Linked DNA regions of Homo sapiens: region 2 is linked to region 1. The links come from fine-mapping of genetic effects on gene expression. A gene starts in region 1. The other region holds a variant in brackets. All regions are shown on one strand. Distances are between the middles of the regions.

The links. PIP is the estimated chance that this variant, and not a neighbour inherited with it, causes the effect. A credible set is the group of variants that fine-mapping cannot tell apart.
Region 2: its variant is the best candidate, but not a certain one, in a credible set for the expression of CUL4B in whole blood (TOPMed, PIP 0.56).

What each region holds. Positions count from the first base shown.
Region 1 is chrX:120,557,944-120,570,271 of GRCh38, forward strand. CUL4B (cullin 4B) reads right to left here and starts at 3,019. Exons shown (of 20, transcript NM_001079872.2): 1 at 2,140-3,019; 2 at 1-96. The coding sequence starts at 2,695. RefSeq lists enhancers at 2,088-2,973, 2,971-3,265, 2,974-3,858 and silencers at 3,239-3,318, 3,619-3,668.
Region 2 is chrX:120,533,756-120,549,527 of GRCh38, forward strand. CUL4B (cullin 4B) reads right to left here. Exons shown (of 20, transcript NM_001079872.2): 3 at 13,381-13,484; 4 at 12,792-12,861; 5 at 11,689-11,762; 6 at 10,726-10,888; 7 at 10,359-10,448; 8 at 9,972-10,054; 9 at 9,211-9,278; 10 at 7,847-7,965; 11 at 6,615-6,807; 12 at 5,513-5,617; 13 at 4,905-5,015; 14 at 4,369-4,454; 15 at 3,172-3,279; 16 at 2,075-2,188; 1 more. LOC124905273 (small nucleolar RNA U13) reads left to right here and starts at 10,560; the gene lies at 10,560-10,663. RefSeq lists an enhancer at 15,666-15,772. The variant G/A (reference allele first, on the strand shown) is at 4,491.

The DNA of each region.
Region 1 (12,328 bases):
TGTACTTAATTGAAGTACTATTCTGAATAGCTTCCACTGCTTCTTTCAGTTTTTGCCAGGTTTCATCTGTGTAGTTTTCTGGTAATTTAGGCTTATCTAGATGATATGTAAAAGGTTGGCATCAGAATACCATGTCAGATACAGTAACCAAAGATTCATAAAATATAATAGCATTACTAATTTTAGGGTAAATTGTGATCTTTATAACTATTACACCTAATCATTAAAGTAACCACTGTATTTAAGCTTAATATAAAGAATAAAATTTGAAATGCCATAATACTGTTTAAGTCATTTTGACTCACCTATTAAAATTGAAGGTGAGGTTTTTCTCCTATTGATTGTATTGCTTCAAAAAAATAAAAATTCAAGAATGACCATAAAAAATAACAATCCTGATCTTATTTCATCATGTGTAAAACCTAAGTCGACATGAATTTTTAACCTGAGATTTAAAGTACTGTCTATGTGCAAGGTACTTTATAAGCCTCTTAATCTTCCCAACAATACCCTGAGGAATCTATTTTACAACCGAGGAAACTGAGGCTGGAACTCATTTAGTAAGCTTGCCCAAGGTCATCATAGCTAGTCAATGGCAAAGCTGGGATTCTAATTCAGGTCTGTTTGACCCCCACATTTATGCAGCATCTATAGAAATGGAAACATCTTAACTCAGGTTTTAAACTACATTTACGAGCAGAGTGAAATTTTTAAAGACTGAAAGAAATGACTCCAGAAACCATGTTGCATTTTCAGAATAGAAAGAAACATCTTACTCTAGGCTTTAAACTTCACTGACTAGCAATGAGTGTGGGGAAAAAAGTTTTAATTAGAATATCCAAATGCCTTAATAATATGCTTTTATTTTAGGAGGGAGAGAAAAAAATCTCTGAAACCAATTTGAAAATGCAACCAGGATCATAACTCATTTAAAAATCTTTAGCTACAAAATCCATATATTTTTAAGTGAAATAATGAAAACGTTACTCAATTACAATTCATATTGACTTCAGAAAGCTCTACTATTAAATCAGAAACTGAGAGCCTGGGTATGGGAAGGTAGTGATATAAAAAAGAAAGGGTTAAAAATAGACAACACCATAGCCCTCTGCTTGAGACAAAATAGAGCATACTCCTGATTTCCACACAATGTTAAAAACACAAGCATAGAGAACCTAATCTTCTCAATACTAATATTCAGCCACAAAGCACTTATCTCATAAATATTACTTAAGTTCATTCATTTACTTCTCTATTTAATAAACACTGTAGCACTGATTACCTGGCAGTTACGGGTGTTGAAAAAGTAAGTCAGAAAAACAGAAACACATTCAACAAATAAAAATTAATTCAGCTCAAATACATTTTTAAAAATTGCTGATTTTATATTTGCCTCAATGTATTCATAATACTCTCCTCACATATCTCAAACACGGTCTGAACAAATTTTCCTAAAAGCTGCAGGTCGATACTTTAAAATCCATTTTAGTGATGGAAAAAATAGATGTAGTAATTGTTCCTATCTTTAGACTAGTGGTACACAGAGTTACTACTTCTGTGTATACACAATGTTTTTCACTTTCAAACCCTACCTTTGGAAAGAAATGCAGAGAACATAAATTTTTCTTCAAATATTCCTTCCAAATGAGTTTCATGAATACAGTATAAATCTAATTATAAATCTTATTTGAGCATAAAAAGATCACTATTGCTACCTGCATTTCTAGGCATTGGATAATGTGGCCTACTGAAGCATAAAAATAAAAATCCCAGCAATGCCAAGGCTCGCTATGCACCTGAAATAAATAAACCTCTTTAGAATACAAATTTCTCACCTGCAAAATCCGGATCAATCATACCGATTGTCAGTGTTATAAGGAATAACAGATTAAATACAATAGGTTGAAAAAGACCTCAAAATACTGCACAGAAACACCCGGTGTATGCTTCAGCACAAGGATCCTAACCACCCCCGGAAAATGAACCCTCCACCAAAAAAGGACCTCCCCTCCACCTCATTGATTATGCATAAAACATTAGGCCACCTCCAAACTGTTTAATATATTAACATAAATAGAGCACGTGACCCCTCGAGTGTCAAATCCTTATTAGGTGATTATGGATTTTGGCCTTGGTTACCTTTAAAGTTCTTGATCACTAACTTCTTAGCAGAGCCAGGTTTGCTGTTAGCAAAGCTAGAGACGGTGGTAGAAGATTTGGCTAGGCCGTTTGCATGATGCACCGAAGCCACAGAAGAGATTAATATACTCTTATTTTTAAGTTGCTGCTGCTGAGATGTTGCAGCAGTTGGTGAAGATGAGGAGGAGGAGGAGGAGGATTCCTCAGCCATCTTCGCATCAAACCCTACAAACTCCAGGGTGTCTTCAAAACGCAGCTTCTTCTGTATCGGTACGTGGCTGGAAGCAGCCACTGAAACCCCCAGGCAGAAGGACGAGGTTGAAGGGGATGCCGAATCCCTGGGTTGTAAAGGAGGAGTGGAAGAGGAGGAAGAGGTGGAATCAAAGTCTTCTCTCTCGTTACTACTGTTACTGCTGCTACTGCTGCTGCTGTTTAACTTTCTCTTCTTGGCAGAGGTGGGCGGAGTGGTGCTGGTATTACCATCAGTGGCAGATCTGACCTCCTGAGCAGCAGCAGCAGCTGAGGGACTGGGGGAAGAAAAACCTGTTGGAAACATGAAAATAGCGGGGTCAACAGGCAGAGGAGCATCAAAAACCTACGTTTATATGCCTGCGTGCGTGTAGGAGAGAAGGTAGCAATGCTAGAGGGGGAAGGGAAGAAAGAAGAGAGGAGAAACACAGAGGACGAGAAGGAAAGTGAAGGGGGGGGCTACACCGGGGGAATGGGAGGGTTTGGGAAGGCGGATAGGCTGACACCAGGAGTGAGCAGAACGAGGGGGGAGAGCGAATGAGGAGGCAGACAGGTAAACGGCCGTGCCGTCCCCCTCCCCTGCTTTTCGATCTCTCTCCCCCCCTTTCTGCAGGAGCGACTCAGCGAGTCTGTGAGGCTGCAGCTCCTCCTCCTTTTCTCCCTCTCCCTGGGAGGGGAGAGGCTGTGGTTGGGGGAAAGGGGGAGGGGGAAAGAACCAGGGCTTGTTATTGTCAATAGCACAAGAGGCTAAAGATGGCGCCATTTCCGGTCACGCGGCGCCGAGGGAGGGGCGGTGTCAACCTCAGGGAGTGGGGGTGAGGGAAGCGCTGCAGCCGCCCGGGGGGCGGGGGAGCTCGCGCGTGAGGGGGCGGCTGGAAAGGGGCGGCTAAAGTGCCCCAGACGCTCGCGCTAGTTCGCTCCTGCTCCCGCTCCCCTTCGCGATCCCCTTTCCTGGCAGCGCCTTCCTTCCCTGGCCCACCGGGAACTCCCACTCCCTCCTTAACGGTCCCGCGGGAAGCTTCGCGCCGCAGCGCCCTTACCGGAAGTGACTGGGCAGACACTTTTCATAGCGCCCAGATCCCGAAGCCCCCAGGTCCGCAGGACTTGAGTGGGGGGGGGAAGGGGGGAGGGAGAAATTGGGGGGAAGAAAAGTGGATAGGAGGAGGGGGCGGGCCTTCGAGACACCTTCGGAGCTCCTGATTGGAGCTTTCTGAAGGCGAGGGGGTGGGGGGGGTGGCGGGAGGAGCGGGAAGGAGCCTCGGGGGAGGGAAGGTAGTGACGGCGAGGGGCGGAGTGAGCTAGCTGGGAAAACGGAGGAGGAGGAAGAGGAGGAGAGAGGGAGGGACGGAATAAAACGTAAGGGTCCGGGAGAATAGAAACTTTGAAAGAGATGAAAGAATAAGGAGTGGTTGCAAGGCTAGGGGAGTAACCCTAAATAGAGGAAAACATAATCATGCCATTATGCCCGCTGCTGGAGAGGAATGTCCCTATGTTAAGATAGGAAAGGAGAAGAAAACGAGCTAAGATAGGAAGAAAAGGACTTTTTAATTCGGTGCCGGTATAAATTGTTTCTCTTTTATCTCAAGGCACCACAGACCCAAGGCTGAATAAGGCCTGAATTTTGATGCCTTTCTCTTTCATGTAGCTGTAAATCCTTTTATCTTACTACCAGGAGCATTTTCTAAGCTGGCTGGCCAAATTAAGTGTGTATTCTAAGGCGAAGAAATGGAAAGGTAACTAACCCCTCACCCACCCAGCACTATGCCCAGGATCGTCCTAACCCCCACTCTATCAGTCCTTAACTCAGTAATTTATAGACCCAACAAAGCTAAGACCCACTTCCTTCTTTTGCCAAATCTCAGTTTACACGCTGTCCCAAAGGAGACATTTTAGAACCATATCGGCAAAAGTCAGTGTTTTCTACTAATGTGTTTCATGACCCCATGCTTTACAATTGATTATTGATTTAAAAAATCTTTAAGTTTGGTTAAATTAGCAACAATAAACCTTGTAAATTCCCTGTTGGGAGTTTTTACTTAACCTTGGGGCATTCTCAGAGGGAGGTAACACAATATCAAAAACTAAATTTGCCAACCTGTTGATCATTCTAACTGCAAAAGCATTCAGTTAGCATGTATGGTAAGACTATGCAAGGTCTCTGCCCTTGAGAAGCCAGTAGGGGAAGATAGTTTCAAAACTAATTTCCATAACAATAATATGACATATATACAAAGTGCTGTCAGAAGAGGCAAAACAAGAAATTTGGGAGAAATCTGGAATAGGAAGAGTTCTACAGAGATTATGTTTATGCTGTGTCTCAAAGTGGGAGTTGCCAAAAAGAGAAGAGGGAACAGGATGAAAGGCATTCTGGGGAACGGAAACAAGGGCAAAGCAAGGAGTGAAAGGGCCAGGCCTGTTTATGGAAACATGGAAAGTGCAGTGAGGCTGGGAAGTAGGATGTCTGGCTGGGAGTAAGGAAGATGAGGCTCAAAAGTGCCTGGCACACCAAGCCAAGAATTTGGAGTCTACTCTGTAGGCGATCATAGATAGCAGGGAGACAATCCAGCAAGCAGAGCTTTTACAAACCAGGGGTGACAGGATTGTGAGTGGAGTAAAAGCAGCTTGTATGGTATACCTTGTGATAGGTGAATCAGAACCCTGCAAATAAATCAACTTTCTAACTTTGTTTAAACAGGCCCACTTGTTTTTGTGTCTTGAAAAGTCCCTGATTAAAATGCAAATCAACCTTTGGCATTATTAGACAATATCATTGCTATTTGATGACAGCCTGCTGAAAGCAAGGCTCTAATGGAACTTAGAACCGCTGAGAAGGGAGATGGGGGCCTGAAAGGAGACAGATGGAAGCACTCCTATCTGTTTTGAATATACCACATAGTTTTTTTCATTTTGTTTTGTTTTGAAGACAGAATCTTGCTGTGTCGCCCAGGCTGGACTGCAGTGGTGTAATCTTGGCTCACTGCAACCTCTGCCTCCCGGGTTCAAGCGATTCTTGTGCGTCAGCCTTCTTGAGTACCTGGGACTACAGGCATGTATCACTACGCCTGCTAATTTTTTTTGTATTTTTAGTAGAGTCAGGGTTTTGCTATGTTGGCCAGGCTGGTCTCGAACTCCTGGCCTCAAGTGATCCGCCTGCCTCAGCCTCCCAAAGTGCTGGGCCTACCATATAGTTCTTGCTGCCCAAATAGAAACAGTAAACTCTTAAGGCCAGGAAAGACACCTTAATACATTGAACTTTCCTTTATCGTGTCTCACAGTTCACAAAATGCTGAACCACTGTAAATGCAGGGTAAATGCTTATTGAATTGAGTATTTCATTGCATGTGAATAAAATAATGCTGTGTCTTTATAAGGGAGGATTAACTGACTCATTTTCAGGATTTAATGAACAAGGTTGTTCTAATTCATGTAGTTAAAATCTTTAGGAGGGTATATGAAGTGCTAGCCATTTTAAAAAATTACAAATATTAGTGCAACTGAAAGGGAATGGACATAAAGATAAGAGAAAGCTGCTTTTGCCATACAAAGATAAACTTTTCTACTAACCTAAATGATAGCTGAGTCCTGTTAATATTTAACTACATTCTAGTAATAATAGTTCCCTATCTCACATGGTTATCTAAGCCCTTCAGTCTTCTGAGTTACATGTTGGTTTTAAAAAGCACAGATCTGGCCACGCGTGGTGGCTCATGCCTGTAATCCCAGCACTTTGGGAGGCCAACATGGGTGGATCACATGAGACCAGGAGTTCCAGACCAGCCTGGCCAATATAGTGAAACCCCGTTTCCACTAAAAATACAAAAATGAGCCGGACATGGTGGTGTTCACCTGTAATCCCAGCTACTCAAATGGCTGAGGCAAAAGAATCCCTTGAACCTGAGGCAGAGGTTGCAGTGAGCCAAGCTCACACTGCTGCACTCCAGCCTGGGTGACAGAGTGAGACCTTGTTACAAAAAACAAACAAACAAACAAAAAACAAGGCTAGGTGGCTCAGGCTTGTAATCCCAAAACTTTGGGAGGCTGAGGCGGGCCGATCACCTGAGGTCAGGGGTTCAAGACCAGCCTGGCCAACATGGTGAAACCCTATCTCTACTAAAAACACAAAAATTATCTGGGCACGTTGGCAGGTGCCTGTAATCCCAACTACTCGGGAGGATAAGGCAGAAGAATCGCTTGAACTCAGGAGGTGGAGGTTGCAGTGAGCCGAGATTGTGCCACTACACTCCTGCCTGGGCAACAGAGAAAGAGTCTGTCTCAAAAAAAAACAAAAACCTTCCAAGTTGGTTTGTAAAATATCTTTTACATCAAGAACCAACTAATTGAGGCTAGTTGAAGAACATAAGCGTATATTCTGTACACCCAAATGTTTGCCAATCAACGTTAAACACATTCTCAACATTAAAATACATTTTCAAGGTTGAACTCACGGGAGCCACACTAATCAAGATGTGTAATGTAGGACACCATACAATTATAGCCATTATCAGACTAAACCAGACTGGGCACTTAACACATATTCCATATTTAGGATCTTTCATCTTGTGAGTTCAACTCATACCTTAGAAACATTAATTAAACTTTACAATGTTGCCACATGAAGTGTAGTTATTATTGGCCACCTTTAACCAAGCTGTTTATAAAGGTAAGTATATGTGTAAAGGAAGAAATACAAACAAAGACAGGGAGCTAGCTTTTACAATGTCAATTCCTTTATTTCTGTGGACATCTCCCTAAAAAGGCAGAGTGTAACCCATTTCCCCTTTTTGATCACAGGGATTCCCCAGGGTGCTTGGGGAATCAAGATGTGTAATGTAGGACGCCATACAGTTATAGCCATCTGGGGTGCTTTAGGTCCTCTCCAGATATCTCATACCAGTGGCTTGCCACTAGACAGACACTCCTGGAAGCCTTCCTATCCAATGGGTGGGATTTTCCTTAGGAATGGGAGAGACTGCTTGCCCAGGAGAATCTGAAGATGTTTCTGAGAATGCATTAAAAAAACACAAACAACAACAAAAAGCAAAAACCAAAACAAAACAAAACAGAAAAAACGGCTGGGCACAGTGGTTCACACCTGTAATCCCAGCACTTTGGGAGGCCAGAGTGGGTGGATCACTTGGCCAGGAGTTTGAGACCAGCCTGGGCAACATGGCGATACCCTGTCTCTACTAAAAATACAAAAATTAGCCAGGCCTGGTGGTGCACATCTGTGGTCCCAGCTACTTGGGAGGCTGAAGTAGGAGAATTGTTTGAACCCGGGAGGCAGAGGTTGCAGTGAGCCGAGATTGCACCACTGCACTCCAGCCTAGGTGACAGAGTGCAAAAAAAAAAAAAAAAAAAAAAAAACTGCTAGGTAAAGGGCAGTCCATTTACTTTTTTTTTTTTTTTTTGTCTGAGACAGTGTCTCGCTCTGTCACCCAGGCTGGAGTGCAGCGGCGCCATCTCAGCTCACTGCAAGCTCCGCCTCCCGGGTTCATGCCATTCTCCTGCCTCAGCCTCCCAAGTAGCTGGGACTACAGGCGCCTACCACCACGCCCAGCTAATTTTTTTTTGTATTTTTAGTAGAGATGAGGTTTCACTATGTTAGCCAGGATGGTCTTGATCTCCTGACCTCATGATCCGCCCGCCTCGGCCTCCCAAAGTGCTGGAATTATAGGCGTGAGCCACCGCGCCCGGCCCAGGCAGTCCATTTTCTTCATCCACTTTTCTGAAGGATCATCTTTGAAGCAGGAAAGTACAGAGAAGGCAAACTAAGCAATGCTGAGATAGTAAAGATTGTATCATAATAAGGGCTTTGTTATGCTATCAACACCAATGGGCTGCTGAGGAGGCCAAAGCTCAAGCAAAAATAATCCAACTACACAATGTGAATTCATCAGTTTCCCATCCTGAGATTGCTATATAAAAGCAAGGAAAGTAATAACATGTGCTGAACCTATGTGCTAAGTAAAATGTAAATAGATAACAGATTTCATATGTATGTGTGTGTGTATAGGTATATATATATATATATATATATATATATATATATATATATATATGTATATATATTTGGGTTTTTTTTTGAGATGGAGTTTCGCTCTTGTTGCCCAGGCTAGAGTGCAATGGCACTACCTTGGCTCACCACAACGTCCACCTCCCGGGTTCAAGCGATTCTCCTGCCTCAGCCTCCCAAGTAGCTGGGATTACAGGCATGCAGCACCACGCCTGGCTAATTTTGTGTTTTTAGTAGAGACGGGGTTTCTCCATGTTGGCCAGGCTGGTCTCGAACTCCCAACCTCAGGTGATCTGCCTGCCTCAGCTTCCCAAAGTGCTGGGATTACAGGTGTGAGCCACCGCACCCAGCCAAATTTCATATTTTTAGCAAAATTGTTTATCTTACATCGCCTGAAGTTACTGACTTGGTACATCAACCATTCAAGCACTTCGTTCCTTAGCTCAGAGATTTTATCTGTCATACCTGTGAACCATCTGGAAAGCAGATTTAAGGACTAAAAGTTAGAGATAGGCTGTTTTCCCTGAGGGTTTGGGAGTGGGGAGCCAGAGCAGCCACAGATGACTTCTCCCTTGGGTGCTGCCAAGGACTTGCTTATGGAGTTGCTGGGCCTATATATATATTTGGCGAGCTGATGTGCCATGGCATGGGCCTATTTTTAACATTCTGTTTACTTTATCGATGTCTCTCAAAGTCCCTCCAACCCCACCCTGCTCAATGTTTGATCTAATGGCATTCAGCTTTTCTTTTTCTCACAGACAAGGCCAATTTAGATTTTTTTTTTTTTTTTTTTTTTTGAGACAGAGTTTGGCTCTGTCGCCCAGGCTGGAGTGCAGTGGTGCAATGTTGGCTCACTGCAATCTCCATCTCCCAGGTTCAAGTGATTCTCCTGCCTTGGCCTCCCAAGTAGCTGGGATTACAGGTGTGCACCACCATGCCCAGCTAAATTTTTTGGTATTTTTAGTAGAAATGGGGTTTTGCCATGTTGGCCAGGCTGGTCTTGAACTCCTGACCTCAGGTGATCCGCCCACCTCGGCCTCCCAAAGTGGTAGGATTACAGGCATGAGCCACTGCACCCAGTGCCAATTTAGATTTAAATCCAGGGTTCCCAACTCACTGTACAATAGAATGACCTAGGAGTTTTTTTTGTTTTTTAATCTTTACCCAGGTCCAAACCTAGTCAGTCCAATTCAATCAGAATCTCTGTGAGGAGGACCTCAATTATCAGTATTTTTAAGAAGCTCTTGGCCAGGTGCGGTGGCTCATGCCTGTGCCTGTAATCCCAGCACTTTGGGAGGCCGAGGCAGGAGTATTGCTTGAAGCCAGGAGTTCAAGACCAGCCTGGTCAACAAAGCGAGACCCTGTCTCTATCGAAAAAAAAAAAAAAAAATTAGCTGTATGTGCTGGCATATCCCAGCACTTTGGGATGCTGAGGTGGGAGGATTGCTTGAGCCCAGGAGTTCCAGCTGCAGTGAGCTATGATGGTGCCAATGCACTCCAGCCTGGGTGACAAAGTAAGACTCTGAAGAAAAAAAAAAAAAACAGCTCTCCAGGAAATTCTACATACCTCCAAGTTTGAGAAACCATAGTTGTAGATGAAGTAAGTATGTCTTGTGATTTGAATGGGGCTGATAAGCACTTGTATTCCGTTTAATGCCTGAAATTTCATGATTATTTATTCACTCATTTGGATAACACATTGCCTCCTTCTCTAGGAATCCTTTTTTAAAGTGCAAATTAGCCAAGGAGTCTTAGTTCCTAACCCTTTAAGGTGAATGCCTCTTGGAGGAAAAAAGCTAATAGGAAAGTCCTAGGAGACTGGAGGTAAACAGAACTAGAAGAAGCCACTGCAATAGGGAGTGGTGAGAGGTGAGGTTACCAACCAGGAAGGAAAGATTTCTGAGAGTACATTTTGCTGACCTCACAGTATTGCCTAGGGCCAATCCTGCTTTTTGATGACTGCATATTTAAAACCTAATCAAGTTTGACAGCTTATCTAAGCTGCCAAAATCATACTAAAAGAAAATTTAAATATTTTTTATAAGCAAAGCAGAGAGCAGACATTGGGTATGTAGGTTTAGAGCTATCCCTAAATGCCCAACTTTTAAATTATCACTCACCTCAGGGAAGTTTCTATTACCAAGTCATGTATTTTTCCTGCTTCTATTACTAAATGTCCTTTATTCCCACCAACAGCATTATTTCTCTCTCCAATTCCTTTGGTCATTCAACAAAAATATATTGAGCAAATACTCTCAGCAACGCATGGTGCTAGATGCCGTGAGGGAATACAGAATAACACAAAATTCAATTTGTAGTTGATTTCACAGTTTTTCAAAGCACTTTCACATACAATCTTATTTTATCCTGATAAACACACTGTGAGATAGATCAAGTACCATCCCCACTGTACAGATAAGAAGTAGGCTCAGCAAAGGAAGTTAAAATTATTTGCTAAAGTCACAAAGCACACAGACCTAAGTCCAGTTCTTCACAGACTCCAAATACAGCACTTCCCATAGTTTACAATTTCGTAAGGAGACTTGCCATAAAATAGTCTCAAGTAGTAGACATGTTAGAAAAAGACGTTCAGAGCCCCACTCACCAAGAGAAAAAAATGAAGAATAAGAAAATAACTCTTTTATTGAGATAAGCTAAATCAAAATGCCCAAAAGGAGACCAAGCTTGCATGCAGTTCAGGCCACCATCAAGCAGGTAGGACAAAACAGCCGGCAATGCACATTTAAGGATATGGTGGCAATCTTGTTCTAGAGAATCAGTCTATTCTCTGGCTGGACCCTCAGCCAGTGGCTGATCTTCACAAGAGGTAGAAACTGGCTGCTTCTCCTGGCCAAATCCAGGAAAACAGTGAAGGAACCCTGCCGGCAGACCCATCATGTTCTACTCCCTTAGTATACAAAGACAACCCTTGCCCTCCATTCTCAATTGGCAATGTAGGTTTAGAGCTATCCCTAAATGCCCAACTTTTAAATTATCACTCACCTTAGGGAAGTTTCTTTTTTTTTTTTTTTTTGAGACGGAGTCTCGCTCTGTCTTCCAGGGTGGAGTGCAGTGGTGCCATCTTGGCTCACTGCAAGCTCCGACTCCCTGGTTCACGCCATTCTCCTGCCTCAGCCTCCGGAGTAGCTGGGACTACAGGCGCCCGCCACCACGCCCGGCTAACTTTTTATATTTTTAGTAGAGACGGGGTTTCACCGTGTTAGCCAGGATGGTCTCGATCTCCTGACCTTGTGATCCAACCGCCTCGGCCTCCCAAAGTGCTGGGATTACAGGCGTGAGCCACCGCGCCCGGCTGGGAAGTTTCTATTACCAAGTAATATATTTGGTGGGTAAGGCAGACAATTACAAGACAGAGTGACAAAGGCCACTATGAGAACGCAGAGGTGGGACACCTGGCCCAGCCTAGGAGGGTGAGGTGGGGTGCAGTGGAGGAAGGGAATTAAGAATAGCTTCCAGAGAAAGAAATCCAATTTAAATCCCCGAGAGTGAGTGGGAATTAGCCAGGCAAAGGGAGTGAAAGGGAGCAGGGGGCATAAAGAAGGAAGATAGGAAGCACATTTAAATCCTAAAGGAAGAGAGAGTAAGGCACATTCAGGACATTGCAAGGAGACTAGTTATTAGAGTGTAACTTCAGTCCTAACCAGAAACTCTGAAGAGCTAATGAAGGAAATGAAGGCAGCATCCCAATCTCAAGTCTGGTACAGCAATCTTAGGCCTCTTAGCACCAAATCTTACTCAAATACCCTACTTGCTGTTGGAGCTGTGGCTACAGATAACACTTCTTGCCTTGAGCCACACTGGTTCAGGAATTGGATTTACAAGTCAGGCTCACTCTTAGATATAGGAGGTGAGAATCACAAAGCGGGAGAATAGGGTTTGACACGTGCAAAGTAAGACAAGGGCAGA
Region 2 (15,772 bases), 22 kb before region 1:
CCCTTTCCCTATGGTTATATAAAGAGTTCTGGCCAGGCGCGGTGGCTCACACCTGTAATCCCAGCACTTTGGTAGGCCGAGGCAGGCGGATCACGAGGTCAGGAGTTCGAGACCAGCCTGGCCAACATGGTGAAACCCCGTCTCTACTAAAAATACAAACATTAGCCAGGTGTGGTGGCAGGCGCCTGTAATCCCAGCTACTCGGGAGGCAGAGGCAGGAGAATTGCTTGAACACAGGAGGCAGAGGTTGCAGTGAGCCGAGATCGCGCCACTGCACTCCAGCCTGGGTGACAGAGCAAGATTCCGTCTTGAGGGGAAAAAAAAAGAGTTCTGGCTGGCTGCAGGGGCTCATGCCTGTAATTGCAGTACTTAGGGAGGCTGAGGCAGGAAGACCCCTTGAGCCCAGGAGTTTGAGACCAGGCTAAGCAACATAGTGAGACCCTGTCTCTACAAAAAAAAATTTTAAAAATTAGCCAGGCACGGTGGCATGCACTTGTAGTCCCATCTGCTTGGCAGGCTGAGGCAGGAGAATCACTTGAGCCTGAGCCATGATTGTACCACTGGACCCCAGCCTGGGTGACAGAGTGAGACCCTGTCTCATTAAAAAAAAAGAAAAAAAAAACTCAAAACAGTTCTGAGGCAAGGAATTATTCCTATAAATATGTCCCCCAGACCTCTTAACATAGTGGTGTGCACATAGTGAACAATTAATGTTTGCTACAAACCTATTCCAGTTGCCTGCTTGATCTCTTCTAAACTGAACTCCTCTCCCTCATTAAACATTAGCAGCACCAGTGTTTGAAAAAGAGAGACCTGGAGTTCCTTTTTACCCTGTTGAAGAAATAAAAGTGTTTAGTCATCACTTTTTTAAAAACACATGAAAAATTAATCATCTCTTATAGGAAAAGCATTTTTCAATTAGTGGATTTAGAAACATGATTAGCATTATCCAGCAAAGCCACTTGACGTGGTAATACAGTATTTCAGTGTGAGGTTTAGGTGTGACCCTACCTAAAATAGGGGGAAGGATTAGCTGACCTTTTAACAGTTTTTTTTTAAGCCTTATAAATAGAATACAGTAATGAAAATTAATCAGCCTTATGTGTCATTCTAGATATTCATCACAAGCAGCAAGAAATCACTATTTCAAATGTATTTTTGATTTGTTTGGCTCAGATTAGTCATGAAAAGCTAAAGTTTTTTGAGATTAGATATTGCACACTGTTTCCCTTAACTCCCACTCTATTCGTAGCTCCCAGCAACAAGATTTCTGTCAAGAAGTGGCAGTGTTAGACTAAGTGTAGTTGCTCATGCCTGTAATCCCAGCACTTTAGGAAGCGGAGGCAGGGGGATAGCTTGAGCCCATGAGTTTGAGGTTACAGTGAACTATGATTGTGCCACTGTACTCCTGCCTGGGTGACAGAGTGGGACCCTATCTCTAAAAATAAACAAATAAATAAAAATAGGAAGTGGCAGTGTACAGTTTTCATCCACAGGTGAGGAAAGGGTAGGGGGAAAGTTCACTGCTTTTCATTTTGCAGAAGGGCCAAATCAATCGTGGAAAGACCACACACCTAAAATTACTTAAAAATACATAAAGCTATGACAAACTATCACTGTCATCATGCGGATATCTAGGATACAATTATAAAACAACAGCTTAAACTGGCCAGATGCGGTGGTTCACACCTGTAATCCCAGCACTTTAGGAGGCCGAGGCGCGTGGATCACAAGGTCAAGAGACAGAGACCATCCTGGCCAACATGGTGAAACCCCGTCTCCACTAAAAATACAAAAAAAATTAGCTGGGTATGGTGGCGCACGCCTGTAGTCCCAGCCACTCGGGAGGCTGAGGCAGGAGAATCACCTGAACCCAGGAGGCAGAGGTTGCGGTGAGCCAAGATAGCGCCACTGCACTCCACTCTGGTGACAGAGTGAGACTCTGTCTCAAAAAAAAAAAAAAAAAAAAAAAAGAAGAAAACAAAAAACAATAGCCTAAACTTTCAGTTAAGAAGGATGACCTAAACATTAAAGATAAAGATGAAAACTAAAAGTTTTGGGAACATCCACTTACCTCTTTAAATTCTGCTTTTAACACACAGTGTCCTAGGGTTGACTGCCACTGAAGTTTCCTGCCACTATGTTTGCCTAGGTAAAATGTCTTGAAAATCTCCTGAAGTTTTACCATCTAAAGTAAATAAAATAAGGCTTTATTTAAGCTCTGTATCCAATACCACATTTACCATTTTTATACTTACCTCATGTGATATAGTTTCTGGAAAATTTTAAGACTATATCCAGTAGGTCCACCAATCACTTTGATGAAAAACAATGATCTCCCAACCACCAAATCAAATGGGATTTATTAGGATTTATACCTTTTGCTCTCTCTGAACATTTAATCATCCCCTCTTTTGAAACATTCACCTGCAGCAGCTTTTGTGCCTCTGCACTATGCTGCTTCCTTTATTTCACTGTTGCTTCTGCATTGGTTTCCTTCACAGGTTCCTCTTTCTACCATCTGCCAAATGTGAGCCTTTTCTAAAGTTCTGCCTCTGCTGTTTTTTCTTCCTCTTTGAGAGAAATCTACTCCCTGGGCCTTCATAATCATCTCCATGGAGGATTCTCAATATCTATCTGTCTAGCCTTAATCCCTTTTATGGGCTTCAGTCCTGGACTAGACAGTTTACCAGGAGTCAGGATAGATTTAATCAAGGACCCATCATTTAGCAATCCCACCTATGGGTGAAATATGTGCAAGAATTCTTAATAGCTAGGTAGAGTGAGGGGTATAACCTGGGAAGATGGAAGAAGAGCCAGGGAAATTGACCCTGAACCCAGAAATTTGGCATTATTAGCTATGTGCTTAACTGGACTTCTAAGTACAAAAGTAAAACATTAAAGCAGTTGGTATTTGGTGTTGGTGCGCTTACTGACATACACTTTTAAAAGTATCCATGCCAAGCCTGGTGACTTACACCTGTAATCCCAGCACTTCGGAAGGCTGAGGCGGGGGGGATCACTTGAGCCCAAGAGTTCAAGACCAGCCTGAGCAATACAGCGAGACCCTGGGTCTCTATTTTTTTCTAAGTATCTATTTTTAAATGACAAGCAAAATGGAAATGCTATGATTTCTATGCCTATAACTCAGTTCTAAACAGTAACTCTTACCTCTGGTGGTAAATGAACTTCCATAGGCACATATGTCGGCCAATAGCCCATTGTCAGGATATTCACAGTTAACTCAATATTTCCCGGAACATTCTGATTCTGCATATACTATAAGAAGATCAAAACACACACTGAGATCTTAAAACTGCATACATTTCATATCATAATAACCTATTTAAGAAGTTCCCTGTTATGAAATTACATGCAAACACTGACCATCCTTAAAATAAAAGGCAACTATTAAGAAGACTTTAAATGAAACCTACACAAAATGCACTAGGCAAGTACAGAGGTTAACATTTTGATACAAAGGCATACAAGGATCACATGACCTCATTACAGGCGTTATCAACTTAAATAATTTCTCACATACAGCTGGGCCGTTATAGGATCTCTTCTCCATTCTTTTCCCCAATACCACCTGCAGTCCCCACCTTTGAATACCCCTATGTGGCTTAAACACCTTGCAGCAACCCCCATTCCTCACCCCCCAGCCAGCCCAAGTCTCCAGTTTTTCACTTGCTCCACTGCCTGTCTGCAGGGAGTGACCTGGAGTAGGGAAGGAAAAAGAGGGGAAAAGGGCAAAGCAGATAAGCCCTATTCTGTAGCTACTATAGAATCCATAATCTTACTGACCCTGATTTTTTCTTAATTCTTTCACTTCCACTTCCCACCTTAGCAACACTGTGGGGTAAAGAAGTCACTACTAAAACCCAAAAGAGGAAAATCTAATTTGCCATCATTATCACCTATGATCTTAAACATTTCAAAACTACTTTCTACCTACATCTTCAAAACTGTGGATCTAGCTTTCTATCCCCAATGTCCCCAAAGGCTTTTATACAGCTGCATTATCACTTCTCCTCTCTCCCCATTGCAAGCTCTGAACATGCAAATTACCAAACGATAAGATGCTGAGGAAAGCCCTTTTCCCACTATAGCTCTTCTTGTACTGACTTCAGTTCAATACATTTTATTTTTATTTTTGTGTTATTCTGGGTGTTTGTCAAAAATAAATCCTAAAGTAGGTCAAATATACTTATATTTCACCAATTTTTTTTTCTACTGTGAATATCACCTCAGTTGCCATGAATTACAACAAACACGTTTCTATTTATCCTCTTTAGTACAAATCATAGCAAGCAGATAACTAAATACAACTAAGTTTGAGGAATTAAGAGTTTAACTCACTTTTACCTGTTTGAACTGAATCATGATGTCTTTAGAAAGTTCCATGTCTTTAAACATTCCTTCAAGTTTGCTGGTGAAAGCAGCTCCGCATTCTATTAAAGATGTTTGTACATGTATAATATTTTAAA[G/A]TGGTAAAAACAAAAGAGGTTTAAAAGTGGGAAACACGAAATACAAAACTTTAGTATGAAGTATGATCTGTAACTTTCATAAGAATAAAAAGAAATCCTTACCCCAAAGTGTATGCCCCATTAATTCAGAGTCAAACTCTTTAATCCTGTAGTAACCTTATCTACTATTTAGGTATAAAATAAATGGGAAATTTTTATACAAATAATAAAACCAAGAACAATGCTTTATCTTAAAAAAAACAACTCTGGATATTATGTACAATAAGTTGGAAACCTCAGGAGCTTGCTCAATTTATGTTTTCATCATATATACATAGACATGAGTGACAAAAGAGGAAATCGATTGAAAGGGTAAAAAGCTAACATTCTCCTTCAGGAATCAAAGAAAAGGAACAGAAAGAATGAGAAACCTACCATGTTTAAGTTTGGACAGCATTGATTTTTCAGCATCTACAGATGCACTCTTTCCGACTAACAGGCGCTTGGCTAAATCTTTCTTATAGAAGGCCTCAAAAACATCCTTGCCTATGTAAAAAGAAATGCAAAATTTATAATATTCCAATAAAAAGTACTGACAAAACTGCTTTAAAGTGCTTTAATAAAGCACACCATTATTCCAAGTTATTTTACTTTACACATTTTATTTAAGTTTGTTAAATGCAAGAAACAGTAGAGATCCATTTTTGTGCCAGACATTTCGAAGTCTTTATTGTAAAACTTTTTTGCATGTAACTGTCTTGATTGCATTAACTTTTCTTCAGAAAAGCTTTTGTGGACTGGTAGCTTTGGTGCCAATATTTAAGAGATTAAGCCAAGTAGCAAAAATCAAGGCACTTAATACTAGAAGAGCCAAAGCATAGGACAATCAGGTAACATTCCTCACGTATCCCCCCAATGAATTAAACACAATTTTAAATCTGTAATTTCCAAATAAATATTCCCTCCAGTTTGAATATACTTGCTAGCTTCTCTGTTGAGTGCTATTTTAAAAGAAAAATATTAAAACATTAGTAAATACTTACCATAGATAAATCTAAATATGATCATAATTTTATCCAACATTTTCTCAAGTTCTTCATCTGTAGCTTCTTTGTTGCCTGCACGAAGTTTTGAATCTACATACTTAGCTAAAATGGGGGAAAAGTTTGTTGTTTAATAACCGGGGAATACACGAGGTACTGGGCACTATATATACCCAAAGAGGAGTATGATACACTGAGTTTTTCAATACTTCAGAAATTTATATGCATTTTTAAAAGTCTCCAAAGTCAGGAAGATCAACTGACTTGTTCAGTGCCATAGAGCTAATAACATCAGGGCCTGAACACAAACCCAAGTGTTCTGACTCCAGATCAAATGTACTTCCCACTATACTGATGTTTATGAAAATAGGATACGGATATCCTGTGGGGGAGGTCTCATGTAGCCCTGTGAGGGCATCATGTAATCCAAGCCACGAAAAGACATGAGGAATCTTCTGGAGTATCCATTTTATAGGAATAGTAAGCAATCTTAAACATTACTTTTCTATTAAAATAAACCAGATACATCGTAGAGTAGAAGGTAAAATTTGCTACATGTTTACGGATACATAGTAGATAGGTTGCAACAAAATTTCATCCTTTTGGCAGAGGACCCTAGACCTTCTCAGGTTACCTCCTCCTCTGACACTAAGGGTACTTGGGTGGAAAAACCTGAGAAGCACTGTAGTGTATATCACATCCTTATGCTAAATGGGCCCAGATTATTAGGTTTATTTTTGCCCTGGACTTTTTTCTTTTTCACTGACAACTGTAATTTCATGCTGCCCTTTTTTGTAGCTTGAAATAACACCCTGCCTCATTTTTAAATCATTAGGCTAGGAAAACAGATTAGCTTATTATCAATAAAGGTAAATAGTGTCCAACGTACTGTCTTTGAAAGAAAGCACATTATGTTTGACATGTGGGCTTTCAGTACTTACATCCAGGTTTTTAGAAACACTCTTCAAACTTGATATACCAGCTAAGCAACCTCAAACAAATCAGGAATTAGTAATACTACAACCTGGTAAAAATTTCAGATTGAGATTTTATGACTCAAAGAACATCATTAAACAACTGGAAAAAGGACTGGAAAACATACCTATAAGTTCAGCTGGTTTATTTGGTCTTTTGTTAATGAACGTTTCAAATGCTTCTTTCATGGCATTGATAAATTTCTCATTCTTCAGAAAGCAGATATCAATTATATGGTCAACCTTATCTTTAAAATCCAGCAATTCTTGAACCATGGTTTTATCTTTTTCAGGATTAATTACAATAGTGCTGCCAAATGCCTAAAACAAAAAATTACCACTTTTTACTGTAATCGAATTGTCTACAATGAAAACAATCCCCAAATCATATTTTAAGTGGCATATATATTTAAAGATCTTTAAAAAGTAAGATAAAGCTATTTTTAAGATGGAATCTTGCTATGTTGCCCAGGCTAGTCTGAAACTCCTAGGCTGAAAGGATCCTCCTGCCTCAGCCTCCCAAGTAGCTGGAGTTACAGGCATGTACCACTGCACCTGGCAAAATAAAGCTGATAGTGAAATGAGGACAAAAAAATAAAGTGCTAAATATCCACACTGTTAACCACTCATCTATAATCACAAAAATAGTAAGCAATGATCACTGGGCATATGATATCATAACAGGGTATTATTAGAAGCCTCTGGGATCTTTTCCTTATTTTTAAAGAAGTCAGCTTTCAACTTCCTTAAAATGGCAATCTGGCTTTAGTGTAAGATTGAAGAAAGGAAAGAAATTTGGGGTTCAAAGTCTTTTTCTACATTTACTGCTTTAAGTGGTAGAGACAGAAATTATGTCAGCCATCAATCAGGTTTTATAGCTGATATGCCACACAGCTACCATTCTCAGGTTGACTGTTCTCAAAATTCCCATTACTTTTTAAACAAATTTAAAATTCCCTTAAAAGAACTGGATCAAGTCCGGGTGTGGTGGCTCACGCCTGTAATCCCAGCACTTTGGGAGGCCAAGGCGGGTGGATCATTTGAGTTCAGGAGTTCAAGGCCAGCCTGACCAACATGGTGAAACCCCGTCTCTACTAAAAATACAAAATTAGCCAGGCATGGTGGTGCATGCCTGTAATCCTAGCTACTTGGGAGGCTGAGGCAGGAGAATCACTTGAACCTGGGAGGCAGAGGTTGCAGCGAGCTAAGATCGTGCCACCGCACTCCAGCCTGGGTGACGAGAGCAAAACTCTGTCTCAAAAAAAAAAAAATTGGATCAAACAAGAAATGCTTGCCAATATGCACTCTTGATGTGTAGATAAGCCATAAGAGAGAAAAATCACAGGTAAATTGTTAATACCTTGATATATTCGATCCACTGCTGCAAAAGAACCTGAACTCCACCTCGAACTCTACTGAAGAGCTGATACAGAAGAGACAAATCTTGAATTCGGTTTTCATCAAGGAGGTTATTTAAACCTGTATTTTAAAACATTTTGGCATTAAAATATAGTGAACAAAAAAGTGAACAAGATTATCAGACATTTTAATAAAATTTGAGTTATAATCATTATTGTGATACTGGTTTGAACTATGACTAGTCTGTATGTGAGTTGTAATGTAAGATTTCCTTTGAATTAAACCCAACCATCTTTCTGGGTAAAAACTAAATATAGAGACTTTAGTCGCTATAAAAATAAAAACAGGCCAGGCACGGTGGCTCACACCTGTAATCCCAGCACTTTGGGAGGCTGAGGCAGGAGGATCAATTGAAGCCAGGAGGTCAAGACCAGCCTGGGCACAACAGTAAGACCCCCTCCCCCTCTCTATTTTAATTCAAAAAGTTAAAAAAATTAAAAAGAAAAAGAAAAATGGTTAACTCCATAATGGTTTGTGCCATTTAGCATGATAGATTAGAGGCAAAAACAAACTTATAAAAACTGGCTTACATAAATATACATTATAAATACCTCATATATGTAGTAGCCATATTATGTACATAGTTATATTTCAGAATACTGGATATAGCCTGTGATATATCAAAAGCCATGCATAAATAGGTCAAATTTAAATGAGGCTCTAATAAATATTTGATTTCCAGGATGAAATAACAGTATAACTGCATTAAATTTCTAAATATATAAATTTTTATACAAAAGAAAATATTATTGGGGAGAAAGGTAAGGCTTTTACCTATTTGCGGCATTCTCAAAGTAAAATGTAGGGTATACTCTAAATTCACTTGGGATTAGAAGTGCTTGGTTTGACATGCCATGAACAACAAAAAACCCTCACCGCTTTAGTGTAAAAAGGAATACCTTTCCTTACTGAAAGCTTACATATTAAGTCAAGAATTTCCCACTTTTTTTCTTTTATTTTATTTAAAGAGACGAGAGTCTCACTATGTTGCCCAGGCTGACCTCAAACTCCTGGGCTGAAGCAATCCTCCTGCCTCAGCCTCTCAAGTAGCTGATACTACAGGCACATATCAACCACTGTTTTTTTATTGGTATTTGTGGATCCCTCTCTTCTAGTTCCTGTATCTTTCAGATAAGAAAACTGGCACCTCCAGGAAGTTTACTGTGATTAATAAGGATTGTGTCCATCCTCAGAAATGCAGCCACATGCTATCAAACTTTTAAAAGGGCAACATCTTTAAAAATTCCCTACTAGTTTGCCACTACCATTTAAAAAGCAATCTCTTATTTACAAATTGCCAATTACCTTTCTGAAGAATTGCTGTTAAGTGTTCACCTAGAAGTTGTTTTTCTACAGTAGCAATTAATGACTTCCTACAAGGAAAAAAAAAAAGGTTAGTATTATTGACGTTTGACTTCCAGAAAATGTAAAGCCTCTCCTGAGGGGGGAAAAAAATCAAATAGCTCATTTTATGTTGATTTCAAGATTCCTATCCTATGTATAAATTTATTGGTGCTCAGAGTTACTATACTTTATGCCTAAAAGAAAAAGACATAAAGGAACTGACAGGCAAAAATTTTAAAAAAACACTGCATATTTTAGAATTTGGTTTACATAACGAAATAAATATCTCCAAGACCTTGCTGTAGTCGGCTTTTTCCAAGTTTTGCTACTTTTATTAGGAAGGTAAAGAAGTACTACATACAGAGGCCCCTCGACTGGCAATATTAATACTTAGGAAAGCACAGAAATAGGGGAATCCACTGAATTTTAATTGGCCTGAAGAGTTTAAAGGTCACATCAGCCTCTAGTATTATTTCTAAATTACCTTCTAAACACACACACACACACACACACACACACACACACACACCCCTAATAATCGAATCCTTGGATGAAAACTAATTAACTAGGGAAAAGAATAACTTGAAGTTTGTATTATGAAAACAACTGTTAACACTTCAAATCACACCTGAAAACAGTTACTAACATGTTTAGGATGGCTAAAGTGCTGCAAGTGATTTAACGACAGTTTAAGACTATTAAATTCAGCATGTGGTACTTACTGGGTGGTCTGATCTAAGTAAGTAATAAGTCTGTCTGCTTCTTCTTCTAGACGTTTGTTAACATGATGTAGATATTCAGGAACCTACAAAGATAGTTTTTTACATTATTGTTTTCCTCCCCATAAATCATTCAGAAAATGTCAAGTCCAAAAGATCCTGGAAGTGGCCCTGTCAAATGTGACAGGGTAGAATCATATGTAAAAATTTATAGGTAGAGTTTATGATCCAGAATTCTGGCCTTTAAGAAGAGAGAAAAGAAAGGAGCACCTAAGTGAGAGAAGAGCATCACAATGTTGGGAAGATAAATGCAAAGGGAAGCTTATATTCTACAAAGTAAGGTCTATTGTGAGAGACAGTGAGAATTTATTAGTCATGATTTTTAAATACCTCTCTTTCTTGCATTAATTTTTGGCCTTCAGCTGCATAGAGCCGGTTAGTTTCTTCCAAAAATCGTTGTTCAAAAGAATCTTGATAAATCTGGAGGGGGAACAAAATGAAGGAGATCATTTATTTAGCAAATATTTACTAAATGTCCTCTATGTCTATGTAAACAGCATTATGAATTTGGTTTTTAAACATCAAGCTAGGATCCTTTTGTAGTTGAGAAGCATGATGATTGGGTTTTTATGCTCATATATGAGATGTGCTTCCTTCAAACCTTGTTATGACATCAGCACATTACCTGTCTGATGTGGGGGGAAAAAAAACTAGGATAGCAATCAGCTCTGTATAGTAGGTGTAGTAGTTAACTTACTTGCAAATCAGACAGCATGCTTAAAAGGCTTCGAAGTAAACTTCTATCAATTGCTTCACCATTCCTTTCCCTCTCAATCAAGAGAAGAATGCCATCAATTGTCTTATTCTGCACTTTCTGATCACTTATAATATGAGCCCTAAATAACTCCAGTCCCATGTCCCTAAAATAAAAAACACATATAACCTAAATTAATTGACAATACCACTTCTGAAGAGGTTTGCTTAACTTCTTACCACATGTTCCCATGCTAATTAGGGCTCCAGGGCTTTGAAGCAGCAATTGTCAAAAAATAAAATCCACACATTTAATTTTGAATAACATTATTAGATTAAAGAACACAGGAAACTCATTTTGCCTTTACTGAGAATTGAAGCTAAATTCCTATTTTCCTCCATAACTAAGTTTTGTTGTATTATTTCTTTTTGTGGATTTCTTCTTTGCTCAAATCAACAGACAAAATTAGTTCTAAGACATAAAACAGTTTTCACTGTACTGGTATTGAAAGCTTATTTGGTTATTTATCAACTGGTTTCAATACTGAAGAATCAGTGAATTCTGATCATTGCTGTAGGCAGATGATAGGTACATGGGAGGGGGAAGAGTTCATGATACTATTCTATTTTCGTGTATACATGGACTTTTGCATAATGTTAAATGAGTGAACTCTTGATGGTCAGCAGCAAAATGAATCACAATCATAGACATTCCAGAGCAAACTTTAGTCCCCTCGGCTAACAAAAAACTTCTTCATAAATTAATATATGCCCAGGGAATGTTAGCTATCTTCAATATTAGCATAGGCAACATATTATTAGGAAGATAAAACTGCTACAAAGGAAAGTCTAGAACCAAATGTGAATTTTTAGAATATTCACAGTATAGCTTATACACTTTCATTAGTGTAATTAAGATTTGAGTATGATTTGGAACAATCTTTTCATATTTTTCTGGCATCCTTACCAAATGGAGGGTAGCATTGAATTCTGAAGAACGTAAGTTCTATCCAGAAACAAAAAAATGCTCCTGATCATGATCTGCCAATGAAAAAAAAAGAAATCAAACAAGTTTTGTATGTTGTGAAGCTGAAATATTTGCTTTCAATAAGAATAAAACTGAAGAGTTTGTCTGTATATATATTACATTACTAAGATCAAACATGCAGATAAACACATCTATCTGAGAATATGCCCATATAGTTTTTATTACTCAACAGTCAATCCTTTTTGTGTTTTCTAGAAAAAAGACACTTAAAATGGCCCTCTGATTTACTGCTTGAGAAGTAACTGAAAAATCAAGGGGACGCTCATATAATTCTTCCTGCGCCACAGTGCTAGGGAATGAAGCTGCCTTACATTGCACATGTGAGGGTTTTTATTGGCAGGGGGTGGGGGTGGGGAGGGGTGATGGATTTTAAGATTTTAATCTGTAGAATATAAGGTATAAACCAGATTAAGAAAAATGGAAAAGGTTGTTATCTGAATAAACTAAAACACAGGACCATCAGGCACCTTCACAGGTAATCAAATAGTGGACAGGATAATCATCAAGAGAGAAAAAAAAATAAGAGTGACAGACGAAATGTAGCTTTTTAATGAATGAGATAAATACATTTTTGGTAAGTGTGACAAAAATAAAAATGAACCTAAGGTGCAAGACATTCTGAAATGCAGGTTTACCTGTAACTTGTGGTTTTAAAATAGAAAACTCAACCAAAACTAGTTTCCAATTCAGAAAAGGAACTTGGGAGGAAGAGTGGGAGGGGGGCGAGGGATAAAAGACTACAATGGTGCAATGTATACTGCTCTGGTGAAGGGTGCACCAAAATCTTACAAATCACCACTAAGGAACTTACTCATGTAACCAAATGTCACCTGTACCCCAATAACTTACGGGAAAATAAAAAATAAATAAATTTTTAAAAAAAGAAAAAAAAAGAAAAGGAATAGATATTGAAGCAATCTCCCTATTGCTAAGTTTTAAAAACTAACATTCCTGTATTTGAAGAAATGTTTTTAACTATTAATACAATGTTTAGCCGAAATACAATACTTTTTCCAGCTTACCATTTGTCTGCAATGGTTTTGCCAGCATCTATCAATCTTCTTTAAAAAAAGAACGCTATCCAATGAATCCCTGAAACATATGTTAAGGATATTTTAAAGCGTTTGGTACAAGTCATATGTGCCATGTGACAGAGAGCATATTAGTCTTAAACATGAATACCTTGCACACTAAGTGAAACTAAATGGCACTTGATTATGCACCAAAGTGCTATTTCCTAATTTGTAAAAGAAAAAAAAAACATAGTTTATACTAAAAAACACCTTTAAAAACAAGTCTTAGACATAACTGAACATCGTGTTTTCAGTTTACTATTTCCCTTAGGAGATTATTTTTCCTCAAGTGGAAATCTGATAGGGCAAAAAGGATAAAGACATAAGGACATCTTATTTACATGAATACCACACGTAGTCCTGGACACGAATTAAGGCTGAAAAGTCAAAATGTGTTTCTTTCTCGAGAAACACAAGGCACAAAAAATGACAAACCTACAAAATACAGGCATTCTACTTCAAGCTGGGTTAAACAGTGAGGGGTAGGGACAGAGAGGAAGACAAAACTATTCACGATTTTTTGTTTTAAAAAGGATATTCTCTGAATTGATGAATCTGTGCTTTGATGTGATCTTCGCAGATCTGTCTCAGCTGTTTGTACAAGTTTGCAGAAATCTTGTAAGAACAGAGATTTTCTACAGCCTGCAAGGTTAAAATACTTTCTTAAGGAGAGGATGAAGGATTTCTCAACTATTTACATCAGATTCTTATTAATTTGATATTTCTACCACATCAGCTTATTAAAAAGGGTTATTCATCCACTTAAGACACAAGGTAAAACAACAAAATATATCAATGTGGGTGGCAAACTTTCTCATAACCAATGCACTGTATCAAAAAAGAACAAATTACAGGTTTAGCATCTTTAATCTAAAAATCTGAAATCCAAAAAGCTCAAAAATCTGAAACTTTTTGAGTGCCAACATGCTGCTCAAAGAAAATCCTACTTGGGCTGGGTACAGTGGTTCATGCCTGTAATCCCAACATTTTGGGGGGCCAAGGTGAGAGGATTGCTTGATGCCAGGCTAGAACAGCCTAGGCAACTGTGATGGTTACTACTGAGTGTCAACTTGATTGGATTGAAGGATACAAAGTATTGATCCTGGGTGTGTCTGTGAGGGTGTTGCCAAAAGAGATTAACATTTGAGTCAGTGGGCTGGGGAAGGCAGATCCATCCTTAACCTGGTGGGCACAATCTAATCAGCTTCCAGTGAATATAAAGCAGGCCAAAAAAAGTGAAAAGGAGAGAAGGGCCTAGCCTCCCAGCCTACATCTTTCTCCCATGCTGGATGCTTCCTGCCCTCGAACATCAGACTCCAAGTTCTTCAGTTTTGGGAATCAACCTGGCTCTCCTTACTCCTCAGCTTGCAGACAGCCTATTGTGGGACCTTGTGATCGTGTAACTTAACACTTAATAAACTCCCCTTTATATATATCTCCTACTAGTTCTGTAGTTCTGTCCCTCTAAGAAAACCCTGACTAATACAGAAACAAAGCAAGACCCCATCTCTACAAAAAATTTAAAAATTAGCTGGGCCCAGTGGTGTGTACCTGTAGTTCCAGCTATTTAGGAGGCTGAGGCAGGAGGATCACTTGAGCCCAAGAGTTCAAGGTTGAAGTGAACCATGACTACGCCACTGCACTCTAGCCTGGGGACAAAGTGAGACCTTGTCTCAAAAATAAAAAAGCTGTCTTGTTTAAAATGTTAATCATTTTCACAAGCAGAGCTTCATTTTGGGTTTAAAAAAGAATTTCACCTGTTGTTTATGTATCAGATGGGTTGGGCAGTCCTACTACAATTGAATTAAAATTTACTTAAACGTTCTTGGATTTTCCTGAACAGAACAAAGCAGAAATTATTGCTAGTAGTATGATAATGAGTATGATATAATACCAAGGAATTTTCTCCAACATTTCAGTTTAAGAATAGTTAAATATAGATTTTAAAATCTGTGGCTGGGCGCAGTGGCTCATGCTTGTAATCCCAGCGGTTTAGGAGGCTGAGGCGGGTGGATCACTTGAGGTCAGGAGTTCAAAATCAGCCTGGCCAACATAGTGAAACCCCGTCTCCACTAAAAATACAAAAATTAGCCGGACATGGTGGTGCACGCCTGTAATCCCAGCTACTCAGGAGGCTGAGGCAGGAGAATTGCTTGAACCCAGGAGGTGGAGGGTGCAGTGAGCCGAGATCACACCAGTGCACTCCAGCCTGGGCAACAGAGAGAGACTCCATCTCAAAAAGGAATAAAATAAAAAATAAATAAAATTTGTACAACTGAATTAACGCCAATTACAAAAGAAAGAACTGCATTTTTACTTCACTTTAATAACTGAATTGGTCTTCTTTTATACTCAGATTCCAGAAGGATGACCTTCAGATTTCCGTAAGTTTCCTGTTATGCATATATAAAAGACTTTCAAATTTAAAACAACAGGCATGCTAAAACTCTTTGGGAAAACTCTGATATAATCTATAATTCCAAGTGGTAATGACTTAAATGTAACACCAGAATTCCTTTCTCACCACAACAGAAGAAAAAAATTCCATTAAAATGAACTCTAGGGGGGCATCCAAGTTCTGTGGGTTGGAGTGGAATTTTAAAAATATGTAGTTAGAAGTCACATTCCCAATATGCAGGTCCAGTAAATAAATCAGCAAATGAAAAGAAAGCTTGGCAGAGCGCGGTGGCTCACGCCTGTAATCCCAGCACTTTGGGAGGCCGAGGCGGGCAGATCATGAGGTCTGGAGTTCGAGACCACTCTGACCAACATAGTGAAACCCTGTCTCTACTAAAAATACAAAAATTAGCCGGGTGTGGTGGTGTGCACCAGCTACTCGGGAGGCTGAGGCAGGAGAATCTCATCAACCCGGGCGGTGGAGGTTGCAGTGAGCCGAGAATGTGCCATTGCATTCCAGCCCAGGCAACAGT